4 linked regions of the Homo sapiens genome follow. The protein of the gene in region 1 binds, or shares a complex with, the protein of each later gene. Each region holds a gene or a part of one and is shown on either strand. Other genes may lie near its edges. A codon is read from its position in the direction of its gene.

Region 1 (5,080 bases):
GTCTGGGTGGTTTGGGAGCTCAAAGCCCCTGAGAATCTAAAAGCAAAAGCCCTTATGACTGGAAAAGTGAGGTCGCAGACATGTGCCCAAAACCTATGAGCCTCTTGGCTGCACTCGGAGAACTGGCCAAGCCTGTGCCACACTCCACAGGGAGGCCTGGGTAGAGTCACGAGGCAGAAAGGGCTGCTTTGCAGGTGCTCCTGGGGAGGTCGCAGCAGGTGCCTGGAATCCATCATCCGCCCATCATCAGCCCCGTTAGCCCTAAGGACACCTGGAGAGTCCCAAGGCTGCCTCTCTCGAGTGAGGGACAGCTCCAGGAAGATGGAACGTGTCCAAATCCTCCCAGGCAGTTAAAGGGTTGAGCAGCATCTGGTCTGGCCAGGTCAGACCCCACATCATTTACACCAGGGGCGAGCCTGGGTGGACTTCACAGGTGGATGGTCCTAGGGTCCTTCCATCTGTCTGCCCAGCCAACCAGACCCGATGAGCAGAGGGCAGCAGGCCTTCTGTGTAACAACCACTGTCCAATAAAAAAACCAATCCAGATTTAGTAAGGAGATATCTTTATGCAAAAGGATATTGCAATAGGAGATACCAGAATACTGCAATAGGGAGAAAGCATTGACCTTAATGTCTGCAAGCTCCCAAAGGTGACGCAGAGAAGGAGTTTTCTTATATAGGGAGGAATGAATGAGGCTGGAAAGAACCACGTCTGGGGAAGTGGGATGAAGGGTGGCTGAGGGGACAAGAGATTGAGGATACTTTACCCTGAGCCTGGCCTGCTCCAGGAGAGGCCAAACATCAGGGCGTTGGGGGAGGGGAGAAGCTGAACCAAGGCTGGGCAAACAAGCATCTTGTGTGGATTGACGCATGGGGACAAGGAGTTCAGGTAATCATTGATAAGGCAAAGATGGCAATGTAGTGGGTGCTATAGTTTGAATAAGGTGTTTGTCTCATTAATTCTCATGTTGAAATTTAATCTCCAGTGTTGGAGGTGCAGCCTGGTGGGAGGTGCTTGGGTCCTGGGGGCAGATCCTTCATGAATAGACTCCTGCCCTCCCTTGTAGGGAGTGGAGTTCTTGCTCTATTAGTTCCTGCCAAAGCTGGTTGTTAAAAACAGCCCGGCACCTCCTCCTCTCTCTTTCCCTGTGACCTCTGCACACAGGGGCTCCCCTTCATCTTCCACCATGAATGGAGGCTTCCTGAGGTCCTCATCAGAAGCAGATGCTGAAGCCTTGCTTCTTATACAGCCTGCAGAACCATAAGCCAAAAAAAGTTTTGATAAATTACCCAGCTTCTAGTATTCCTTTACAGCAACGCAAAACAGACAAAGACAGTGGGCCTGTCATGCATCAACAAGGGGCGCTGTAGGGGAGGCAGAATTCTACCTCCATTATCTTAGGGTCCAGGGTGGGCCCAAGAATTAGACTGACATTAGAGAGATGAGCAGGAGAAAAACATACAGTTATTTAATACAAATTTAATGTGGTACAGGAGCCCTCATAAGGAAATGAAGATGCAAAGAGGCAGTTAGAGTCACTTATATACAGAGGTGGACAAACACTATTAAGTTGTGAGATTTGATACGGCCACGGGGCTTGAGTGAGGATAGTTAATGGGGTGAAGAAATGACTAAGTCAAAATACTTACACACTAGGTTGAACAAAGAGTAGTAACTGTGGCAACAACTAGGAAGATAAGGGTTAGTTTAATAAAGTTTGTTTGTATAGATTTCTCTTGGCTTCTATCTTGGTCTGTTTCATGTTGTTAAAGGAATACCTGAGGCTGGATGATTTATTAAAAAAAAAAAAGGTTTATTTGGCTTATGGTTTCGCAGGCTGTACAAGAAGCACAGTGGCTGGGCGCAGTGGCTCACGCCTGTAATCCCAGCTACTCAGGAGGCTGAGGCAGGAGAGTCGCTTGAACTTCCCGGGAGGCGGATGTTGCAGTGGGCTGAGATCACATCACTGCACTCCAGCCTGGGCAACAGAGTGAGACTCAGGTCAAAAAATTAAAAAAAAAAAAGCATAGTGGCCGGGCACGGTGTAATCCTAGCACTTTGGGAGGCCAAGGTCGGGGGATCAGTTGAACTCAGGAATTCAAGACCAGCTTGGGCAACATAATGACAGCCCATCTCTACAAAAAAATTAAAAATTTAAAAATTAGCTGGATGTGGTCCCAGCTACTTGGGAGGCTGAGGTAAGAGGGGCCTGGGCAACAGAGCAAGATGAAAAAAGGAGGGAAAGGAGGGGAGGGGAAGGGAGAAGAAAAAAAGGAAGGGAGGGAGGGAGTGAGGAAGGGAGGGAAGGAGAAAGGAAGGGAGGGAAGGAGAAAGGAAGGGAGGGAAGGAGAAAGGAAGGGAGGGAAGGAGAAAGGAAGGGAGGGAGTGAGGAAGGGAGGGAAGGAGAAAGGAAGGGAGGGAGGGAGAAAGGAAGGAAGCAAGCATAGGGCCCACCTCTGCTTCTGGTGAGGGCCTCTGGCTGCTTCTGCTCATGGTGGAAGGTGAAGGGGAACCCATGTATGTGCAGAGGTCACAGGGCTGCCGCGAGAGAGGACGCCAGAGAGAGAGGGGAGAGGGGTGCCAGGCTCTTTTCAACACCAGCTCTTCAGGGAACCAACAGAGTGAAAACTCACCCTAAAGGAGGGCAGGACTCTATTCAGAGGGTGACACCCCAGGACCCACACACCTCCCACTGGCCCCCCCCTCCCTGGGCTCCAACTTTAGGGATCAAATTTCAACTTGAGAGTTGGAGGAGATTTGGAAGCTTCCACCTCCCGTCCTTGATGATAAGAACGTTCCCTTGCTTTTACTATAAGGAGAACATCTTTCATATGGGAATTTCATCTCTTGTATTTAAGAAACAACAAGAAATTCAGAATGATCTTCCTACACCTGCTTCTTCTTTTTTTTTTTTAAGTGCCTTTATCTCAAAATAGACAATATGCCAGAAAGGCACATCTTTACCTTCTTCAGAATCCTAAGGCTCATCTAAGCCGTACAGGTAAGGGAGTTCTTTGCAGGTCATAAAAAGTGGGAGATTCCTTTAACTCTGGCTGCATCCCAGAGCTTTGTCACTGTGTAAAAGTGGAATGCCGGCCGGGCACGCTGGCTCACGCCTGTAATCCCAACACTTTGGGAGGCCGAGGCGGGCGGATCACGAGGTCAGGAGATCGAGACCATCCTGGCTAACATGGTGAAACCCCGTCTCTACTAAAAATACAAAACAAAATTAGCCAGGCATGATGGCGGGCACCTGTAGTCCCAGCTACTCTGTAGGCTGAGGCAGGAGAATGGCGTGAACCCGGGAGGCGGAGCTTGCAGTGAGCTGGGATTGCGCCACTGCACTCCAGCCTGGGCGACAGAGAGAGACTCCGTCTCAAAAAAAAAAAAAAAAAAGTGAAATGCCAGCTGGGCCTGGTGGCTCATGCCTGTAATCCCAGCACTTTGGGAGGCCGAGGCGGGTGGATCACCTGAGGTCAGGAGTTCGAGACCAGCCTGGCCAATATGGTGAAACCCCATCTCTATTAAAAACACAAAAAATTAGCCAGGCATGGTGGCGGACACCTGTAATCCCTGTAATTCCAGTTACTCGGGAGGCTGAGGCAGGAGAATCGCTTGAACCTGGGAGGTGGAGGTTGCAGTAAGCAGAGATCACGCTATTGCACTCCAGCCTGGGCAACAAGAGTGAAACTCCATCTCAAAAAATAAAAAAATAAATTAATTTTTTAAAAAAGTGGAATGCCATGTGCTGGCTTCTGGAAGGCTCTTGCCACCCAAGTCATGGGGAAGGGAGAAGAGGAGCGCTGAGAAGACATGAGGAAGCTTGTGCTGGAGAGAGATGATCCCCACCACCGCGGCCTACCCGCATCAACCCTTCACAATGCTGGTGCCAGCTCTGGTGGCCACGACCAACAGGCATGAATATAAGGGAGAGGCGCCCGAGTGGAGTTCCCTGTGGGCCAATCAGAGAGCAGTGGGCCATCACGCCACCTGAGGCCAGCCAATGGGAACGCGGCAAGCTCTATAAAAGCGAGCAATCCGCTGAGGTCTGGGCAGAGGACACCGCGGGGCCAACAGTTTCGGATTCATGGCCCGAACCAAGCAGACTGCGCGCAAGTCAACGGGTGGCAAGGCGCCGCGCAAGCAGCTGGCCACCAAGGTGGCTCGCAAGAGCGCACCTGCCACTGGCGGCGTGAAGAAGCCGCACCGCTACCGGCCCGGCACGGTGGCGCTTCGCGAGATCCGCCGCTACCAGAAGTCCACTGAGCTGCTAATCCGCAAGTTGCCCTTCCAGCGGCTGATGCGCGAGATCGCTCAGGACTTTAAGACCGACCTGCGCTTCCAGAGCTCGGCCGTGATGGCGCTGCAGGAGGCGTGCGAGTCTTACCTGGTGGGGCTGTTTGAGGACACCAACCTGTGTGTCATCCATGCCAAACGGGTCACCATCATGCCTAAGGACATCCAGCTGGCACGCCGTATCCGCGGGGAGCGGGCCTAGGAGGGCTATCTCGCCACCTGAGAGGTTGCGCAACGTTCACCCCAAAGGCTCTTTTAAGAGCCACCCACCTGGTCGAAGAGTTGCTGTAGCAAGCTAGTCTCTTGGGTTTCGGGGGGTTCCTTCCGCTGGCCTGTGCTGGCTTACCTACTTCTGATTAGGGTGGGAGGCTGGTGAATCCTGTGTTCACCCTGTCCAGTTAGGAGGCCAGCTACTCACACGCGTTACCTCTCAGCCTGTCTCCAGTCACAAATCCAGCTAGTAGTGTGTGGGGCTAACTTGGCCTATCCGTTTAGATAAGAATCATGGTTGGTCTGTTTTGGGGACGGGGTGTTGAGGGTAGCCTAATTGGTCTATCTCCAGTTAGGTAAGCAACCCCAGCTAGTTGTGTCAACTCAGCCTATCTACAGTTAGGTTGGAAGGCTGGCTGGTCTTGTGTGTTCTCAGCTCAGCCTCTTTCAAATTAGGTTAGAAGTCCTGCGTGTGTGTGTGTGTGTGTACACGCAGCTTGTTTCCAGTGAGGTTACCAGTCCAGCTAGTCTTCTGCCTTGACAGCCCATCTCCTGTTAAGGCCAGCAAGTAGT
Region 2 (7,036 bases), on another chromosome or scaffold:
TAAAGACAATGATTGGCATACAGAAGGTATGCACTCGCATAAAATAAACTTTCATGAAAAGCATTAAAATCCATTATAAATTAATTTATTAAATAGGTATTTGGTATATGTGATGGTTTTATTAGATATTACTCTTATTTATTGCCAACCCCTCCCCCAAAGTCAAAACAAATCAGAAAATCCCATAACTCCAATTTACACTAAATAATTTATTTTCCCAAAATGTGTATGTGTTCTGAGGCGTGACACATGATACAGTTCCATTGGTCATTCTCTATCAATCATAATATGACAGGACACAAGAGGCTAAAAATGGCTCATCATAATTTATTTTATGTTAAAATGTACAGCTTTTTTTTGTTTGTTTTTTGTTTTTTTGAAGTGACTGACTAAAAAGAGAACAGATAAATACAAGAGTGTCGCTGGATCCTATTTTATACAAGGATTACGCCTCTCCTGCTTGGCCCTTACTGTCACCCTGTACAGGTACAAAGGCTACAAAAAAGGAAGCAATATAAACAGACACAAATAACTTTTTTGCTTTTTTACATGCGATTTGTAAGCTTAGTTTGAGCTATTCACAAGCTACTTTTCTATTTTTCCTTAAAAAATAACTCCAATATTTTATAAAGATAGAAAAATCTACAGATGGAATGAAAATGTAAAGTTAGAGGCATTTCCATAAAATAGCAACTTTACACCAAATTCACTATTTTTTTTTAAATCCTGCCAAGTATTTGGACATATATGAAATGTTTCAAAACCTGACAGATAAACACTGAGATATGCTTCATTCAATAAACAGAAGTCTGCATTTATAAAACAGAAAGCTGCCTTTTTTCCCCAAAGAAATCTGTCACCAAAATGGAAAAGGGTCTCAACTTTACACCAAACATTTAGCAATAAAACCCTTTTGACTAACCAAATGGGAATAGCTTTTATAGCTCTTTACAGTTTTATAATTAACAAAAATATAGTTTTTTTTAAAACCCTCAAATTAGGGCACCCTAATCAAGGCAAAAAACTTAAGAAATGGCTTACTGTTAGCACAACACTTGTACAGTACTACAAAATGCACTGTCACTAACAAAGACATTAGCGGCATGCTGAAGTGTCACCTTAAACAAAATATACAATAACTGAAATGCTAAAGGCATTTACATGGAGTGGACAGGGAAGGGAAAAAAAAAGCTCTAGGTTCAATATTAAAACAGATAATTTGGGGGGGCTTGATATCCACATTGTTTAACAGAAGCAGGCACAACAAGTGGCTGCCTCCAAATTGTAGTCCAAAGAGAGGCCTTCCTTTGCAGAGAATTTTATATAAAAGTAACAGAAATGAAGGTACCAAAAAAAAGAAAAAGGAAAAAAAGAAAAACAACTTGTATAAGGCTTTCTGCTGCATACAGCTTTTTTTTTTTTTAAATAAATGGTGCCAACAAATGTTTTTGCATTCACACCAATTGCTGGTTTTGAAATCGTACTCTTCAAAGGTATTTGTGCAGATCAATCCAATAGTGATGCCCCGTAGGTTTTGTGGACTGCCCACGTTGTCTACCTTCTCATGTAGGAGCCATTGAGAGACTGTTTGGACATGCCTGTGTTCATGTAGCCGTGATGTCCGGGGGCCGTGTACATCATGTTACCGTGGGGTGGGGTCTGCATTGGCTGCTGGGCATATGGCTGGGTGCCCATCATGCCCATCTGCATCTGCATAGGGTATTGGGGCGTTTGATTCATATAGCCATGATTGCTGTGGTAGCCACTGTTCATCATTGGCTGGGACATGCTGTACCCATTCATGGCGTTGAGAGTGTTCATGTTCATGTTCACAGAGTTGACATTGTAGGCTGGCGCTGGCATCAGGTTCACACTCATGTTCATGCCTCTTTGCATCGTTAAAGTCCGTGCAGGACCCTGCATGGCTACAGTCTGGGAGCGCCCATAGATTTGTGACTGATGGGTGGCAGCGGCTGGTGACAGAGACGCTGACTTGGTTCTCATGGAGATGTGGCCCTTGCTGGCAATCTGGGTTTGCAGTCTTTGGCTGTGAGAGATGCCAATATTTGATGCAGCCATGTTCCGTTGCAAAAGAGGCGGCGGCAGATTCATTGGAGGAGGAGTCAGGTTGGGGGGTGGGGTCATGGTAGCTTGTGCTTGGGGTCCCCCAGGGACGGAGTGTGGAGACTGAGAAAGTTGAACAAGCCCTGTGTTACTTAATGGTGTGGACAAAGAGGCACTGTTTGCATAGGAAGTCACAGCAGCGGAATGGCTGTAAGGCAATGAATGATCAATAAGTGTATTAGTTAACTGCTGCAGTTTGGCAAGGCTGAAGGTGGCTGACGGCTGCGGGTAATGCCCAGCCCCAAAATCACTCTGACCCATTCGCTCGTATAAGCCAATGTTGGCGTTGCTCGTCTCGGGGATTTCAGCCAGCTGCATGGGTGGGGTGAAGTTAGCAGCCATGCTGCACTGAGCCAGCTGCTGGCTGCTGCTCGGAGGCCTCTCCACCACACAGCCTTGAGGAGACTTGACGCTGCAGGTCGGAGGGGAGCTGATGCTGGTTTGCTGCAGCATGCTGCAGCTCCCGCTGATGTTGGACATCTGCTGGGTGACAGCACAGCTGCTCTGTGTCAGACTGCTGGAGGTGAGGTTGCTATAGGAGCAGCTGTTCTGTGAAGAGCCGTTTCCACAGATGCTGCCTCCCATAGTAGAATCGTAGCTGCTTGGGTTTTCGTAGTTCTCAGTTGTGCTCTCGATACTGCCCAGGTCACTAAATCCACTGTCTACGACTTGCTGTGAATGATCTGAAACTGATGGGACATCCATCATGGGACTGGTTTCCATGTTCTGCAGAGATGGCACTGAGATGGCACTTTGATCTGGGCTGATTTGGGCGTAGCTGTTTTCCAGAGCAGGGACACTTGGGCTGTTGACAGAACGTACGGACTGGCCAGGATGGGAGTGGACGGATGAAACTGGGCTACTGTGGTCCGACTGTTGGCAATCGTCGAGCGTGGTGGCAATCTGTGGACTTTGGTCTGCACGGGTGTAGTTCTGTAGGCTTCTACAGGCCTCTTGAGTCTCGGCACAATCCTGAAAGGTGTCGTCCTGTTCGCTGCTCTCCTGGGTCAAAGACTGAACGGCCTGGACAGTCTCAGAGTCGATTTCCATGGTTGCTGGGTTTCCCTCTTTGAACTCTGTATCGACTTCCTTGCTGTTCTTTTGGTCCTGCTTCTGTGCCTGTTCTCCTGGGGGTGGCTCCTCGTCAGATTCGGGTACAGCTTCAGGGTCCCCAGCAAGCTCCTTGGGCTCACTGTTACAAGAAGCTGTCAGGTCGACGCCACAGTCCATTAAGACCTCTGGGTTCGAGTGACCAGGCTGCACATTAAGGTCTAAAAAAGTCTCCTGGTTTTCCAGTACTTCTTTGAAGCTTTCTCTGGGCAGCTCTTCCTTCTCCACTTCGGCAGACTCCATGTGGCTGTCATCCTCGTCATCGGCATCATGGTCCTCGTTGTGGGATGGCTCTTCATCCTCTTCCTCCTCCTCTTCGTGATCATCCAAACGTGCAGAGTCTTCTTTTTCCGTGGAGATTTCTGGTTCCTCTTTTTCTTGGCTTTTAGCACCATCTGGATCTTTTTCTACATTTCCTCCTCCTTCTTCTTCTTCCCCTTCCTCTTCTTCCTCTTCTTCCTCTTCCTCCTCCTCCTCCTCTTCCTCTTCCTCAGGTTTGATGAGATCATCTTCTGGTTTTTCACCTGGTGATGTGTTTGGACTTACAGGGGCACATGTTTCTTCCCTTCTGTTTTCCTCTTGAGGCAACAGGGCTTCCCCAGTTTCCTTGACCTCCTCCTCAATCCTGATGGGACTGGGGCTGGTTTTTCCTTCTGAAGTCTCCTTCTGTTCTTCCACTGTTACCTGCTCGTCAGGCTCCATGGGTGTTTCTGGCGGGGTGTACAAATTCAGTTTAAATCCGGTCTTCCTCTCTTTGTTTTGCCTCCACTTAGATAGACCGCGCTTTGTTCCTTTTGGCCACACTTGTTTGCACTTTAGAGGTTCGGGATTGTCTTTACTGCCTTCTTTCAAGTTACTTGAATCATCATTCATATTGTCTTAGTGAAGAGACAAAAACGGGAAGGAAAAAAAACAGTCTTAGAAAGCATAACCATGGGCAACTTGAATTCATTCCTCTAAATTAATTAGCAAACACTGCTTTCAATTTGGCATGTTAAAAGTTGATGGTAAAGACATAATCAAGGCTAATGTGTAATAATATTGTGTTATAAACCAAGTAAATAACCTAGGCCTGGGAGAGTAACATATTGGGAACACATGGATATAGGCAATGCTAATGTGCTTATTTGAATTTAATGAACAAGACATTCTCTGATGCAAAAGCCCAGAGTTCCACAGTGTAAAAAAAAAAATCAATTTGAACATTTACAAATTAGGAAATATAGGGGAAAGGAATTAATGCTAGCTTATATACAAATCATTACTGTCCTGGAAAAATGACTAGAAGCCTTAACTCTCATATCTACCTAGAGAAAGTAAACCTCTGTTTGTGGACATTTATAGGATGTAAATGATCTTGGAAGACATGATTTATTTACTTTGATTTGAATGTTCTCTCTGGCATAAAAATAAGCTGTGTACCTCTGAAACAAATCAGTAAATAACTAAATACCCAAAACAAATGCATTTGTAATCATCATTTTTAGGATCATCATTTTTGCATGATACAAACTACAATGTAATTACTAGCAAATTCCTGAACATTTAAAATACAGGTATTCTTTTTAACACTAATTCTGTCCACACTGAATTCTGGATCAATATGTTGCTGATGTAAGGTTTGCATATTAAAGACACTTAGAAACAAACCATAATTGTGAAGTTCATTTCAGTTCAGGTGAGCTTTTTACTGAACCTATATGCACATGTTAATATAAATGTAAATATGTACATATTTATACAAGCAGATGAATAGCTATATACATATTAATAAATATATATTAATAAATATATGCATGAAGCACCCAAGTATTCTTAAGATCTTTAGATTACACCAATCTTCTAGAATCAGTGGTCAATTTAAAGGAAAAGCTTTATATAGAACAATAGTCTTATTAGAAACTCTATTTTGGAGAATAAAAATAAGATCTCACAATCATCATAAAACAGATATCCCTTCTGCCAGAATAGAGTGAGTTCTAGTCCAACTGGTGGACAGCAGAGTAAGCACTGGCTGATTTAGGTAATAAAAGGATTACAGATAAACTTACCTGCAAGTATTACATTCAAACCGACCAGCTGAAAAGAACACATATGTGATGTAGAATGTTTCCTTGAGAAGTGCCGAGTACCATGCCCGAGTTAAGAGTCATCTCAGGACATTTCTATTCACAATGGCAGGTAATAGCCATGCCAGTGCCCCCGGATTCCACATTCTTTTTATTTTTGAGACGGAGTCTTGCTCTGTTGCCCAGGCTGGAGTGCAGTGGCATGATCTCGGCTCACTGCAACCTCTGTCTCCCAGGTTCAAGCGATTCTCCTGCCTCAGCCTCCCAAGTAGCTGGGACTTACAGGCATGCATCACCACACCCAGCTAATTTTTTTGTACTTTTGGTAGAGATGGGGTTTCACCATGTTGGTCAGGCTGGTCTTGAACTCCTGACCTCAGGTGATCTGCCTACCTCGGCCGCCCAAAGTGCTGGGATTACAGGCATGAGCCACCATGCCTGGCTGGATTCTGCATTCTTATTCTACGTGCTACTGGACCTACCGGCTTTTGTTGGAACACCTCCCAAAATCAGAAGATGAGCTTTCTGACAATTATTTTTAAGAAAGAAGGACATCCTGAAAGGAATCAGGCATAATATGAGAAGACAGCCAAGAAGGGGAAATAAACCTCATTTTCACACACAAAATGATCGCTCACTGCAGTTTGTTATTTGTTTAAAAAAAAAAAACCCAAAGAATAAGGCTTGGTTTCTCTATACCCAGGGTAAGAAGTCATTCCTTCAGCAAAATACTGTATGCAGGAATAGCATTTCTGTGAACTAAGAAAATCAAGAAGATGCTTGCATATGTTCTTAAAACTGTGGCTTTTCAAAAGCTAGAGTGATCCTGTGGTTCCCAGGGAAATGAGATGGCCTGTTCCCCAGATTAAAGTAAGTTCTGAATAGAGTCATCTTGGCCAGGGAATAGAGAGAGTATACCATAAACCCTCATGATTCAGCTGGGAGCACACGTTCTCAACCTGACAGGCAAGGATGGGTGCTTTTAAAGACGATTCACTGGTGTTCAGTGTATTTTTTAGAGGATGGGGTAGAGGTGTCCCTGTCAACTTAAAAGGAAAGTCAGTTTACTGATTTTTATGTTATGCAATATTATCAAAGCTAATATTGATGTGTGGGTAAGTTTAGATGGTTCCTTTTTTTTTTTTTTTTTTTGAGAAAGGGTCTCATTCTGTCACCCAGGCTGGAGTGCAGTGGCACGATCATGGCTCACCCTGAGCTCAGGTGATCCTCCCACCTCAGCCTCCCAAGTAGCTGGGACTATAGGCACACACCACCACTGCTGACTAATTTTTGTATCTTTTGTAGAGATGGGGTTTTGCCATGTCGCTCAGGCTGGTCTCAAACTCCTGGGCTCAAGTGATCCAGCTGCCTCAGTCTCCAAAAGTGCTGAGACTACAGGTGCACACCACTACATCTGATTAATTTTTGTATTTTTTTTAGAGTAGGGGCTTTGCCATGTTGCCTAGGTTGGTCTCAAACTCCTGGGCTCAAGTGATCCACCTGCCTCAGCCTCCCAAAGTGCTGGGATTACAGGTGTAAGCCATCATGCCCAGCTTAGTTTAGATGAATCTTTATAGTAGTATATACTACGACACTACTGATTATAAAATGTACTATTGATTTACTAATATTTGTTTTCCAGGAAAAAAGAAACGATTCCATTCAATGCTCACACTGATAATAATATATACCTTGATTTCAGAAATAACTAAATGTGAAAAAAAAAAGTACAT
Region 3 (3,906 bases), about 180 Mb from region 1:
CAGGGATCTACCAGCCAAAGGAGATTGGGTCTTCCTCCAGGGAAGCTTCTCACCAACTAGACAGCTCGGAGAGCAATCTGAGGATCCCACTGGAGGTTGAGTCCCTTGCTTTTCAAGCACCTAAAATGCACCCATCCTTCCCACTGGTTCCACAATTTGTATAGAGCACAGATGCTGGCATGAACTTAGGCCAGTTCAACAAAGATGTATCAAATGGGGCAGCAGTGAGAGATACTCTGTTGAGAGGACTCATTGGTCTGGTGCTTCCTCTGTTACCTCATCTTGCCCGTCTCTAAGGCAGAGCAAGCACAACAAAGAGGTGCTCAGAGCCAGAAGTGTCCCTGCTCCCATGACCCACCATACTTGGCCTAATACAGAGCTTGACAAGCAAAGGACCCACTCTCTGGAACTTCCTAGGGAATGCCTTACTGATTTGTCTTAAAATACACAGCCCCGCTCCAGAGCCTATGACTCTAGATACACCCCCCAGCCTGACGTGGGCCACGTGGGCTCCTTGGGGCAGACAGCCAATCCTCTGCTCAACACATTTTATTGCTAAGGACAAGGTGATGCACCAGTTTTCAAAATAATTTGGTTTATAGTGTTCATACGTAACAAAAAAGGGGAAGTATTATAAATCTGATTCTTGTATACACAGGGTATTGGTGTGAAGCCCTCCAATCCTGGGCCCAGGCAAACAAATTCTTGAGGAGCAAAAACCTGTTTAACCCCTTCAGTATTGCCCTCTAGTCCCACCCCCCACCCCAAAATCAGCTCCCTCCCACCTACAGTGGGCCTCCAATGGCCCCAGTTTTTTCATCCTAACCCTCCCAGCCCCTGCATGATTGCAATTTTCTGTTGACAGAATCACCCACCAGGCTCTGCCTGCTTCCATCATTAAAATCCCCGATTCAGGGTAATCCCCACCCACACCCTGTAATACTTTGCCACAGGGGCTCTGCACCTAGAGTGTTGTGGGCACACACCCATGTTATCCCCATGTTCTCCTTTAGGGGAAGACAAAGAGGTGGCATCAGCTCCTTAGCATCTCAATACTGCAGCTTTGCCAGCACTGTCTTGAGACGGTTCCAGGCCTGGACAGATGCCACACCCATCTCCAGCCAACCCCCAGGAGCCCTTACTCAGCTCAGCTGAGGGCAGAATTTCACATTTTGTTTGCCCTGCATAGGCAAGGAAGAAAGTAAAGGCCAGGGGCTGGCAGAAGCTGGTCCAGACCAAACATACACGCACGCACGCACGCACGCACACACACACACACATATAAATACAAAAGTAGGGGTTGGGGCAAGTACCAGCACCTCAGCCTAGTCGGTGCAGGTGATAGTTATGAAGCTAAGTCCTAGGCCAGGAACAAGGCAGCCAGTCCAGCCAGCATAGTTGACCCCTCTATGGACTGGGGCCAGTGCAGCCACAGCATTCCAGTGCTCAGCCCCTCAGCTGGGAGATCAGCGACTGCTGCCACGTGCCCAGAAATGGCTCGTCCTTTCACTACAGCGGAATGCAATGAGGGTGGGTGAGAAGATGATGGGTCGGTTATTTCATTCCTTTTCTTTTTACAACTTCACTTTCAGAGACTTCAGCGTTCCATGTCTGCTGTGCTGTGGAACCCAGAGTGCTCTTGCCTGGATGGCTGAGAATCCCTTGGACCCTGGAAGCACCTACTCCATGATGGCCCGGTATAGTGCAGGCTCAATATAATCTTCCCGGTATCTTGAGTTGATAACTCGTTGCCGTTTCTTTTCTTGCTTAACCTCTTTCTCTGTGAAAATCTCATTGAAGCGCATGTCTGAGGCTACTGACTATAGAAGAATAAGCAAGCCAAGTGTCAGCTACCCCAGGAACAATACAAAGGGATGCATCCTTGACTTGTTCCCTCCCTCCAAGACAGGAACTGGGGGGACACAGAAAATACTCACCAGTCTAGATTTGACTCTCTTGGGAAGCTCTTCATCCAGTGTGTATACATCATCTCTCTTAACCACAAGTTGTGAGCCATCCTCAAACTCCACCTACCAAGGAAACAAAGGCCTTTTGGCTAGGATATCCCTGACTCTTTCCCTGGTCCACCATGCACAGTGGCAGTCCCCTACAGTCAAAGGAAGGAGTTAGAACACTAAAATAACAACTACCTTACTTCACATTTGGCAGACTGGAAACAGGGCAGACCCCTAGCTCTGAAAGGGTTACCAACCTATTAGTTCTCCTAAGAGCAAAGACTCGCCTCTGGCCCAACAGGAAGCACAGAATTAATCAAGCACCCCCCACTCCCTAGAAAGGTAGAACTTTGGATACCTGGTACATTTGGATAGGGTGGGAGGCCACAAACTTGGCTCCATAGACTTGGCCGTCTGTCCATCTCACTTGGACCACTTCCCCTTCAGCAGGAGGACCAAACTGGAGACAGTCCTGGCTCTGAGGAAACAGGAAGGAAGGAGGGTGAAAGGAACGTCCACCTGCACACAAAGGTAACTGTCCTCTACTCAGGGAAGAGTGAACCAGGACAAAGTAACTGTTTTAGAGAGCAAGGCAGCTCTCTGGGCTGAAAAATGTTAACAGTTAAAGACCTTGCTAAGTCAAAGTCTGCCCCTATCTCTGCCCTCTCCTGCTTCTAGGTGACCAAAAAAAAAAAAAAAATCCAGCTATAACAAACTTAGTAAACACAGGAGTTAAGTGCCAGAATCAAGAGTCCTTCTTACATTCCCTCAACTGTTCCCCTGCGGGTTCTCCAGGGCTCTGCCATGAAGAAATACTAGAACCATACTCAACTATAAGACATGTGTTTTTTTTGGCCAGGCACGGTGGCTCATGCCTGTAATCGCAGCACTTTGGGAGGCTGAGGCAGGCAGATCACCAGGTCAGGAGATCAAGACCATCCTGGCTAACATGGTGAAACCCCATCTCTACTAAAAATGCAAAAAATTAGCCAGGTGTGGTGGCAGGCGCCTGTAGTCCCAGCTACTCGGGAGTCTGAGGCAGGAGAATGGTGTGAACCCAGGAGGCGGAGCTTGCAGAGAGCTGAGATCACGCTGGAATACAGTGGCCTGATCTTGGCTCATTGCAACCTCAGCCTCCTGGGTTCTAGCAATCCTCCTGCCTCAGCCTCCCGAGTAGCTGGGACAACAGGCACGTGCCACCATGCCCAGCTAATCTTTGTATTTTTAGTAGAGACGGGGTTTCACCATGTTGGCCAGTCTGGTCTCGAACTCCTTACCTCAGGTGATCTGCCTGCCTCGGCTTGCCAAAGTGGTGGGATTACAGGCATGAGCCACTGTGCCCAACCAAGAAATATGTTCTTAACAGGAAAGATGAAAAAGAGTCACCTACCATGGGACCTGGCAAAGTACTTCAGAACTTTTATTCCTTCCAGAAGCAGGTAAGTACCCCAAGTCCTCATCGTATTCCCAGCATAGGGCTTGGTATACGGGGGGATATTTCATTCAGCATATTGGCTGAATGAAAGGTCTGATAGGTATACCTGGGAGAAGGTCCTTAGGGACATGGCTTAAAAAATGAGAGAGGGGCAGGGCAGTGAGTCTAAAAGGATGTGGATGCTCACATCTGCTCTTACAATCATGCTACAGTTCATTTATTGAGTGGAAACAGTTCCCTACTTATTGACAATTCATTTACTGAATAGGTAATCAGTAAATACATTTTGTATCAATCTAACAATTAGGCATAAACTACAGCCTCCTACACCCAATATCTGAGGTGTTCTAAGATTTAACTACTCAAATGTTTGATATTTGATAAATTGTTTAAGTTCTCTGCAATTCAGTTCCACCTCCTATAACAGCACTTCTGAAAATGTGGTCTGTGAACCTCTGAGGGGTTCCTGAGACACTGTCAGGGAGCAAGTGAGACATGGCTATTTTTATAATATTA
Region 4 (7,964 bases), on another chromosome or scaffold:
AATATTCTATAGTTTGGGCTGGGTGCAGTGGGCTCACTATAATCACAACACTATGGGAGGCAGGGGTGGGAGGACTGCTTGAGCCCAGGGGTTCGAGACCAGCTTGGGCAACATGGCAAAACTCCGTCTCTACAAAAAATTAAAAAATTAGCCCAATGTGGTGGCACATCGACTATGGTCCCAGCTATTCAGGAGGCTAAGGTGGGAGGATTGCTTAAGCCCAGGTTGAGGCTGCAGGGAGCAGCTGTGTTTGCACCACTGTACTCCATCCAGCCTGAGTGCCAGAGCAACACTGTCTCATTTAAAAAAAAAAAAATTCTATAGTTTAATTTTAAGAACAGAATTTTTAAAAGAACTGTAATATAAAAGTATGGAACCTATTAGAAGCCTTTGCTAAGTAAAAATTTCCTTAATCCACATAGCCTCTAGGTGGAGTATACAGGCATGGCACCTTTTTGAAAGATTCCTTTGCAGCTTCAGTATGACTCAGCTTAAAATATTTTTTAAAATACTAAATAAATGCTCAGTAATGGTGCCTAGGAAGTGAAATATACCATTGGAAATAAGTATGTTTTTGACACCAGTACTGTAAATCCCTGATGTGATTCAGCTGGGTTCTGAATGGATCCCAGTTAAAAATGGAACGTTTTGGCTTTATGAATGGCTGGTTTCATCTATGCAATGTAAAAGCCCTGTAACGACATCCTGAGTCATCTATCTTCTTTGTTCAGAGCTGACTCCTAAAATGGAAGGCAACACTTGAGAAATACCTGTAATTTGAAGAACTTCTGGTGGTATATCTGAAAAACAGTGTGGTATAAGTTGGAATGGACCGATCAATGGTTTTTCTTTTGTCTATTTTTATATGCAGTTGGCAATAAAAAAAAAATTACTGTTGGGTGTGAAAAATGGGCCTGGTAGCTGCAATGCTTATATTAATAGTAGTATCATAGGAGAGTAATCAAATGACTTCAGAGTAATAAGAAAAATACCCCTTAGTGTTATCAATGGCCTATTTGAAATTATTTTAATAAATGAATCATCTTTCAAAATTTGCCCTATATATGTATGTGCATTTATGCTCTATATAGGTTTAAAAAAAAAAAAAAAACGGGGGCACATGTTAAAGTAATAATTGTGATTACCGAAAGGAGATAGGGCAAGGCACTGAGTACAGAGAACTGTTAACTTTATATATGCCTGTACAACTTTCTAAAAGTTTATTACAATGAATATATATTGTTTTATAATTAAAATTAACCTTACATATGATATATACATTTTAGAGATTAAAAACTAGTTTTTAAAATGAAAAGTTTTACATGCCACGATTACCTAAATCATCTTCAATGCATTTTTTACATATACTTCTAGTTCAAAGTATGTCCCTCATCGATGAAGTTAAACTATTTCCCCTTCAAAACTGGCAAATGAAGCACTGAATTACTTTAGTAAAAGATAATTAAAGCAAAGATAATTGTCGTTTTAGCTTTCTAAATATTTATTACTAAAGATATTAAAAATACGTATTTTTAAGACCTTAAAATATATGTAGAAAAAATACCAAGAATTCTTGGACTGACATGAGGAGTTGACCTTAATTTCCTAGCCTACGTTTGTGTTTTATGTTTAGGGTGTGTTCTGTATTTGGATGTGGAGTTATTTTAGATTTCAACACGGTCTTGAAGAAAGTCTTCCTTCAGACTATTTATAAGGCAGAGATTAAGTCCTGGAAATTATTTAAGTATCTTATTTCTGCTTTTAGGTTAAATGTAACTTCCTACCTCAGCTCTATTTCTCTTCCTGAAATTAGCTTTTCGTCATTAGGGGAAAGGAGTCCACGTTGGTTGGGGAGCCTGCGCGCCAGCATCCCGGCGCATCCCGGGCGCCGGCCGAGGAGGACCGGCCGAACAGGACCCACGGCCCCCGGGGAGCGCCGGCGCCCAGCCCGCGGCGCGGAGGGGCCGAGCCTGCGCCCGCCTCCCCCGCTGGTTGGTCGAGGAAGCCAGAAATCAGCGCGAGGACAGCCTCGCTCTCCTCCCCGAAGCGGCCAGGCATGGCCAGCCCGGAGAGTGCGGCGACTCCACCGTGAGCTCTCGAGAGTGCCTGCCTGCCTTTCGCCGGGGGCAGGCGGGCGGCGGGGCAAGAGGAGGCGCCGTGCGCCGGGGTCGCTGGCCCAATTCTCGACTCGGGGTAAGATGGCTCCGCTCCGAACTCGCCGGCGCGACCACACGCACAGCCTCTCCCTTCCCAGCCTCCGTGCTCGGGCCCGGAGGGTCGCGGAGGCTGTTGGCGGCGCGGAGCCAGCCCGGCGCGACCTCAGGCGGCGCAGCGGGAGCGAGTGCGGGTCTCCGAGCTGCCCGCCCGCAGACAAAGCTGACAACATGGCTACCTCCGCTCCTCCGCTCAAACAAGTTCCTCGCAAGTTGAGCCCGGCAGGCGCCTGGGCTGCGGCGGAAAGCCGCGCGCGCCTCGGCGGCCGTCGTCCATCAACTTCAAGTTTCCCTCCGCAGAGCAGCCCGCGGCCGCCAGGCGCCGAACACAGCCGCCCAGCGCGAGGCCCGGCCCGGGAAACTTTCAACGTCTGCAGCCCGCAACTGACAGCCCGGGCGCACGGGCGCCGCACTCACCTTCAGACAGGTCCTCGATGCACTCGAAGGTGATCTCGAACTGGAACGGGTTGTAGAAAGGAGAAGGGTTATCCAGCACCACTACATTGTTCACCTGAACCTTTGCCATATTTTGAAAAAAACACAAACAATGGGAACTGGGGCTGGTTGCGGCACAATAAAGTCCAGCGCGCGGCCGCTCGGGAGAGCGCAGACCCCCGCTCCAGCGCCGGCCAGACGTCGTGCAGCGGCGACTTGAGAAACTTTTTTCCTCTTTTTATTTACACGGGAGCACTCCACAGTGTTTTGCAGCTTTCCTATTTCACTAAACTACAGCCCATTCTGCTCTGATAAGTAGCAGCGTTGCCCTCGATTGGCTGCACCCGAGTTCTGACCCTCCTCCTCCAGCGAGGGCCTCGGCAGCCAGCAAGATGGGCTCCCGCTCCCGGAATGGACTCGGAAACTTTAACTGCGGCTCCACCTGCTGGTGTGGATTAGGACAAAGGCGGAGAACAAAGTGAGTGGAATAAGGGCTGGGAGGCCCGCGCGGAGGCCGCCGGCGGCGGCGCGGAGAGGGGCGGAGGGGGCGTGGCCGCGGCGGGGAGGCGTGGCTGCGGCGGGAGGGCGCGATCCGGCCGACGCCCGCCCCTCCAGTTGGCTTCGTGTGGGTGTTTTGGCGTTTTTTTGTTTTTTTTTTTGTTTTTTTGGTTTTTTGATTTAACGCTCTTTTTACATCAGTGCAACAGCTTTGCCGGCCTTGCTGAATTTAGCAGATGAGAGTCGGTGTTTACACTGGGTTAGGTTCAGCTTTCTGCGTATCGGGTAGTATTTGGAGTAGAGAGAAAGATTGGCTGCAGGGGAAATAAATTGCATGTTATAGACCGATGTCAGCTCGAAAGGAGCAAAGCCATTTTGGAAATCTAGCTCTTGGCCAGTATCTACGTTTAGGCACGACAGCGCCGTTAAGCAACACAAAATGAAGGGCGAGGAATGATTTTCTACACACTGTGCTTGGAAAATTTAAATAGGTAACCTTTGGGCTTGCACCTGGGCGTCTTCTTCGGAGTCCAGATCTGGGAAGTCCTAGAATAAAAAAAAATCACAAGAGGTGTGATCAGTTATACTTCAGGTTACTGCCATTTGGAGAGCATAGCAGGAACATAAAAGGAGAAAATGGAAGTGTTAGGAGACCAACAGGGCAACAAACGTAATAGAGATGGGAAAAAGAACACAAAGACATAGCAAGACATTTGATCTTCAAAAAAATTTCTGACCTAAACCGTTAGTAAAGCAAATTCTGAGGAGCCCTTGCTTGCCTGTAACCAGTTGAGGTCTGAACTGAGGAAATGTTGATTCGTTTATGCTGCTTGGCTACCATTGCGGGGAAAGAGAAAGCTTTAACATATTTGTGAGCCTAAACCGTTTCTATTTAGTAAGTGGTATAAAGGTTTGTTTTATTATCTGCTAGCCATAAACCATCATTTTTTTCCTTAAATGTTGTGAATGAAACCACCAAACTTGGCCAAATTCAGAGAGAAAATTAATTCTTAAGTATGTGTTCTGGAAGAGTTTTCTCTTAGTATAGTGCCCAGAATTTTGATTTGTCATTCTTTGGTCATTGTTCATACTTAAGTAGGTGGCTTTTGATGAAACGTTTTCATCTGATGGTCTTTTGAAAGTTAATGTGAGACAGCTAATGTCAACCCCTCGTACATTTAGGAAAACCGGTTAGAGTGGGGAAGAGTTCCCTTTTTTTGTCAGTGGATTGAACAGTTAGATATAGGACCTACCAAAAAACACTTCTTCAAGCCAGTTGTTTGTGACATTAGAGTATTAAGAGTCAAACCATGGTGATAGACACAGATTTTTGTGGCTGATAAACAACATACTCTTCATTCTTATTAGTGCTGGTCCTAACACTAGCAGATAAAGTGGAAATTGCTGTATGCTGTAAGACACTCTGTATATGTAAGATAAAATGACCATTTGAAGATTAAAACTCCTGTGAGACTGGTGTATGCAGTTGTCTGATTATTACAGGTACTCTTAAGAGGAGAGTCTAGTCAGTCTCATGAAAACGACATTTTATGCTTGTTAAAATCACGTGCATTTTGCAGTCTGACCGTAAGTGTTACAATGAGACTAGTTGTAAAACTCACTTTTGGTGGATGTGCAGCATGAAGGACTGAGAAGATCTACCTGAATGCCACTAATTTGGCTTATTTTCTTTAAAATTTTTTGTTTAACACATCATATGCAACAGTATTTAAGAAGAAAAAACTCCCCAACATTTCACTGGAAGCTGCAAGAATTAGCTCCAGGCTTCTCCTGTCTTAACTCTTGTATTATTGCTTGTCAGAAATACTAAAGGGTCGTTGAGCACTTTGTTCAATAGTTTCCTCACCATTGATACTACCTTACTCCAGGAGAGACCGAAAGGATTCCTCAGATATGTCCTGGCATATTTCTAATTTAACTGGTATGCTGTAGGAAAAAAAGAATTGTGAAAGCCTCTCTCTGGTTTCAGAGGCAATCAGTAGGACTTGTTGCTGAACAACTTTGGTGACTCCCAAACATCTAATTGTACAACAGATGGGTCACTGTGAATGTCTTTATTAAGTACCCAAGGGGGTCCCACATAATGTTTGGAGGGCTGCATGGAATGTAATCCCCCAATCACTTCTCACTATGGGTTACTTGGGGGAAGGATGGCTGAGAGAGATTTTATCGGCTCTAAGATGAACAGAACAAAGCCTAAACTAGTGCTTAGGGCAGAAATACATGAAACTAGTTAGTTGTTGTTTTAGACTGAATTATGTCTCCCCCAAATTCGTATGTTGAAGCACTAATCCCTAGTACCTCAGAATGTGACTGTATTTGGAGATTAAGTTAAATGAGGTGATTGGGGTGGGCCCTAATCTAATCTAGCTGGCGTCCTCACAAGGGGAAATTTAGATTTACAGAGAAGCACAAGGGTCACACGCACACAGAGGAAACACAGCAAAAAGGTGGCCATTTGCAAGCCAAGCAAAGAGGCTTTAGAATAAACCAAACCTGCCAACACCTTGATCTTGGATTTCTAGCTTCCAGAACTGTGAGAAAGTAAATTTCTATTGTTTAAGCCACCCAGTGAGTGATATTTTGTTATGGCAGCTCTAACAACCTAATATAGCTATAAGATATTTTTCCCCTCAGAATTAAGCTTATTTGAGCATCTAATCTTACTGAATCCAAATATTGGTCAGTTCCCAAGCACTTCCTGTGGGTGAAATGATGTGGTCCTTTAGCCATGCCAGTAAGGGTGTGGCGTATGTGGAGTGGTGTGCTGTTGCCATTCTTCAGAGGAAGTATATACCACTGGGCATATAGCTTGAATTCTGAAGACACAAGATGCAGCTTACTTGCATGGATTCAAGACTCCTCTACAGAGAAGTGAAACTTGAAGTCAAATTGAGGTCATACACAAAACAAGATGAAAGAGCGAATTCAAATATACTAAAATTGAATTAAATCAAAATGTGCCAAATTAAAATACATTAGAACTAGGAATTAAATTGAGTGTCAGCCCGTGTCTACTGCAAAAGTTATCATAGGAATGGAAGTACTAACCTCTAGCTTTTGTTCAAATCTAGATTTCCACCTCGGGTAATCACTGTGTTGAATTGTCTTCTCATTTGTATTATTACCAACTTAAAAAAATTCCTCATGTAAGGCTTGTTTTAATATGGTCTTTAGTTAGTTTAAGAGGCTCCTTTTTATTTATTAGAAATAGGATGTCAAAATTTAATGATAGTTTTAAATAAAATTTTCTGTATAAATATAGACTAGAGATTTGATGGAGTTCATAGACATTTCTAAATGGAGTAAATTGTACAATAATGATTTCAATAATAATTCATTACATACATACAGAGAGCATTTGTTATGTGAAATTTTTATGCTAGGCTCTGTGAGAAATAGTCAAAGATAAGACATACAAAGACCTTATGGTTCAGTAGGAAAGGTAACTAATCAAATAAGTATGATGCGAAATAGAAAGTGTTAGATGCACCTGTAACCAGTTATGTTAAAATAGGCAAAAGAAAAAATGTTTTCTTGACAATTTGTAAAAAACTTTAAAATACCTGTTTTTGAGCCTCACAAACAGGAATGGCAGGAGGGTAAGATATCATCCCATATAACAAATGAGGATGCTGCTGCTCAGAAACCCATTCCTCTGATGGCTGTCCTAGTACCTTTGTACTCTCTACCATGTCAAGTAAATTTTAAAGTGGGCTTTGTATGTAGAAAAAATAGATTGGTATCATTTTCTGGAAGAACCCACAGGCTGGCGGACACTCCAGTAATGACTTGATTAATGAACTCTTGAGGAACAAAGCTCCATTAATGAGGTTGGTCCAGGTGTATACTGGGAGAGAGAAGGAGACCCAGCCAAGGCAAAGCTGGGGGAGGCTCCCCACGGGGTACTACAGATGTCAAGCCTCCTGTTGAAAAAGGCATCCCTTGGAAGGTGTGGGGGATGGAGCTACACATCCTGGAATGCATCCTTATACTTTTTATAAGGTTTCCATGTCTGTTACATAGCGTACCCTCTCCCCTTCTCTGCTCCACGTCATTAATAAAAGTTTCACTGTTTTGTGTTCTTTTCTACCCATCATTGTGTTAGAAGTTTGTTGAAGGTATAAGCTATATCTGATCCCTTATCCATAGCTGGACTATACTGTAAAACACCTTTTGCATAGCCATAGGTTACATCAGTCAGCTTTCTGAAGCACTGTAATTACATTTATTGACAGTTTCTTGGTGTGTATATCATTATGTTGTTTTTGACCATTTTGAAGGGAAATGCCTAATAATTATTTTCTGTTTCTTATACCTAGTTTTTTGTCTGTGTCTTCTTAGTCCTCTTATCAATCAAGGTCTTTCTAAACTCGTTTCCTCTTGAACTCAAGTCTCTACTTGCAGTCCATCTTCCTTCATGTTTTATAATATATTCCATCCTTTTCTCTCTAACCCTCTACTGCTCTCATTCATCAGAGGTTCACTTTTTAATACCAGGAAAAAAAACAGTAATCGGTAGAGAGGACTCAAATCTTTAAAACATCTCTAGGCTAGACCACTGCTCGTACAAAGCCATTACTAAGCATAGCAGCTTTTCTAGTTGGTTACTATAGAGACAAATGACATTAGATGGAGTGACGCTTGGCAGAAGCTAGGCATGTAGGCTTTGTGAGATTGGAGGCCTCATATGCATGGTCATTTAGAAAGAGTCAAAAACCAGAAAGGATAGGGAGGGGAAATGCTTCACAAATGAGCTAATAGGTAATTAATTGGTAGAAATTTGGTTGGTAGAAT

The links.
Region 2: the proteins of H3-4 (region 1) and KAT6B are in contact, whole or in part, in a crystal structure (PDB 6OIE), measured with the Homo sapiens proteins. Residues at the interface, in NP_003484.1 of Homo sapiens: Ala2 (codon at 4,092), Arg3 (codon at 4,095), Thr4 (codon at 4,098), Lys5 (codon at 4,101), Gln6 (codon at 4,104), Ala8 (codon at 4,110), Arg9 (codon at 4,113), Ser11 (codon at 4,119), Thr12 (codon at 4,122), Gly13 (codon at 4,125), Gly14 (codon at 4,128), Lys15 (codon at 4,131), Ala16 (codon at 4,134), Pro17 (codon at 4,137); in NP_001357065.1 of Homo sapiens: Ser217, Phe218, Leu220, Arg227, Ser242, Ser243, Gly244, Cys248, Leu249, Lys250, Phe251, Leu255, Trp264, Cys266, Ile267, Glu268, Lys270, Gln278, Ala282, Asp283, Asn284, Met285, Leu286, Phe287, Cys288, Asp289, Asp292, Met307, Pro308, Lys309.
Region 3: the proteins of H3-4 (region 1) and KDM4A are in contact, whole or in part, in a crystal structure (PDB 2YBP), measured with the Homo sapiens proteins. Residues at the interface, in NP_003484.1 of Homo sapiens: Ala32 (codon at 4,182), Thr33 (codon at 4,185), Gly34 (codon at 4,188), Gly35 (codon at 4,191), Val36 (codon at 4,194), Lys37 (codon at 4,197), Lys38 (codon at 4,200), Pro39 (codon at 4,203), His40 (codon at 4,206), Arg41 (codon at 4,209), Tyr42 (codon at 4,212); in NP_055478.2 of Homo sapiens: Ile71, Tyr85, Asn86, Ile87, Gln88, Ala134, Asp135, Val160, Ile166, Thr167, Ile168, Glu169, Gly170, Val171, Tyr175, Tyr177, Glu190, Asp191, His240, Lys241, Met242, Ser288, Thr289, Asn290, Arg309, Asp311, Met312, Val313, Lys314, Ile315.
Region 4: the proteins of H3-4 (region 1) and ASF1A are in contact, whole or in part, in a crystal structure (PDB 8Z50), measured with the Homo sapiens proteins. Residues at the interface, in NP_003484.1 of Homo sapiens: Asp107 (codon at 4,407), Leu110 (codon at 4,416), Cys111 (codon at 4,419), His114 (codon at 4,428), Lys123 (codon at 4,455), Gln126 (codon at 4,464), Leu127 (codon at 4,467), Ala128 (codon at 4,470), Arg130 (codon at 4,476), Ile131 (codon at 4,479), Arg132 (codon at 4,482), Gly133 (codon at 4,485); in NP_054753.1 of Homo sapiens: Val45, Ala48, Glu49, Glu51, Asp54, Val92, Thr93, Val94, Leu96, Arg108, Gly110, Tyr111, Tyr112, Asn114, Glu116, Leu140, Asn143, Arg145, Thr147, Phe149.

What each region holds. Positions count from the first base shown.
Region 1 is NC_000001.11:228,424,334-228,429,413, reverse strand, and holds H3-4 (histone H3.1t), read left to right. Parts: upstream 1-4,053; 5' UTR 4,054-4,088; coding exon 4,089-4,499; 3' UTR 4,500-4,569; downstream 4,570-5,080. UniProt on the Homo sapiens protein: Core component of nucleosome. Nucleosomes wrap and compact DNA into chromatin, limiting DNA accessibility to the cellular machineries which require DNA as a template.
Region 2 is NC_000010.11:75,025,565-75,032,600, reverse strand, and holds part of KAT6B (histone acetyltransferase KAT6B), read right to left. Parts: intron 4,113-7,036; coding exon 1,555-4,112; 3' UTR 1-1,554. UniProt on the Homo sapiens protein: Histone acetyltransferase which may be involved in both positive and negative regulation of transcription. Required for RUNX2-dependent transcriptional activation. May be involved in cerebral cortex development.
Region 3 is NC_000001.11:43,702,144-43,706,049, reverse strand, and holds the end of KDM4A (lysine-specific demethylase 4A), read right to left. Parts: intron 3,395-3,906; exon of another isoform or gene 3,322-3,394; intron 2,487-3,321; exon of another isoform or gene 2,434-2,486; coding exon 2,314-2,433; intron 2,031-2,313; coding exon 1,938-2,030; intron 1,821-1,937; coding exon 1,680-1,820; 3' UTR 532-1,679; downstream 1-531. UniProt on the Homo sapiens protein: Histone demethylase that specifically demethylates 'Lys-9' and 'Lys-36' residues of histone H3, thereby playing a central role in histone code. Does not demethylate histone H3 'Lys-4', H3 'Lys-27' nor H4 'Lys-20'.
Region 4 is NC_000006.12:118,889,189-118,897,152, reverse strand, and holds the start of ASF1A (histone chaperone ASF1A), read right to left. Parts: upstream 3,002-7,964; 5' UTR 2,740-3,001; coding exon 2,631-2,739; coding exon of another isoform or gene 1,828-2,630; intron 1-1,827. UniProt on the Homo sapiens protein: Histone chaperone that facilitates histone deposition and histone exchange and removal during nucleosome assembly and disassembly.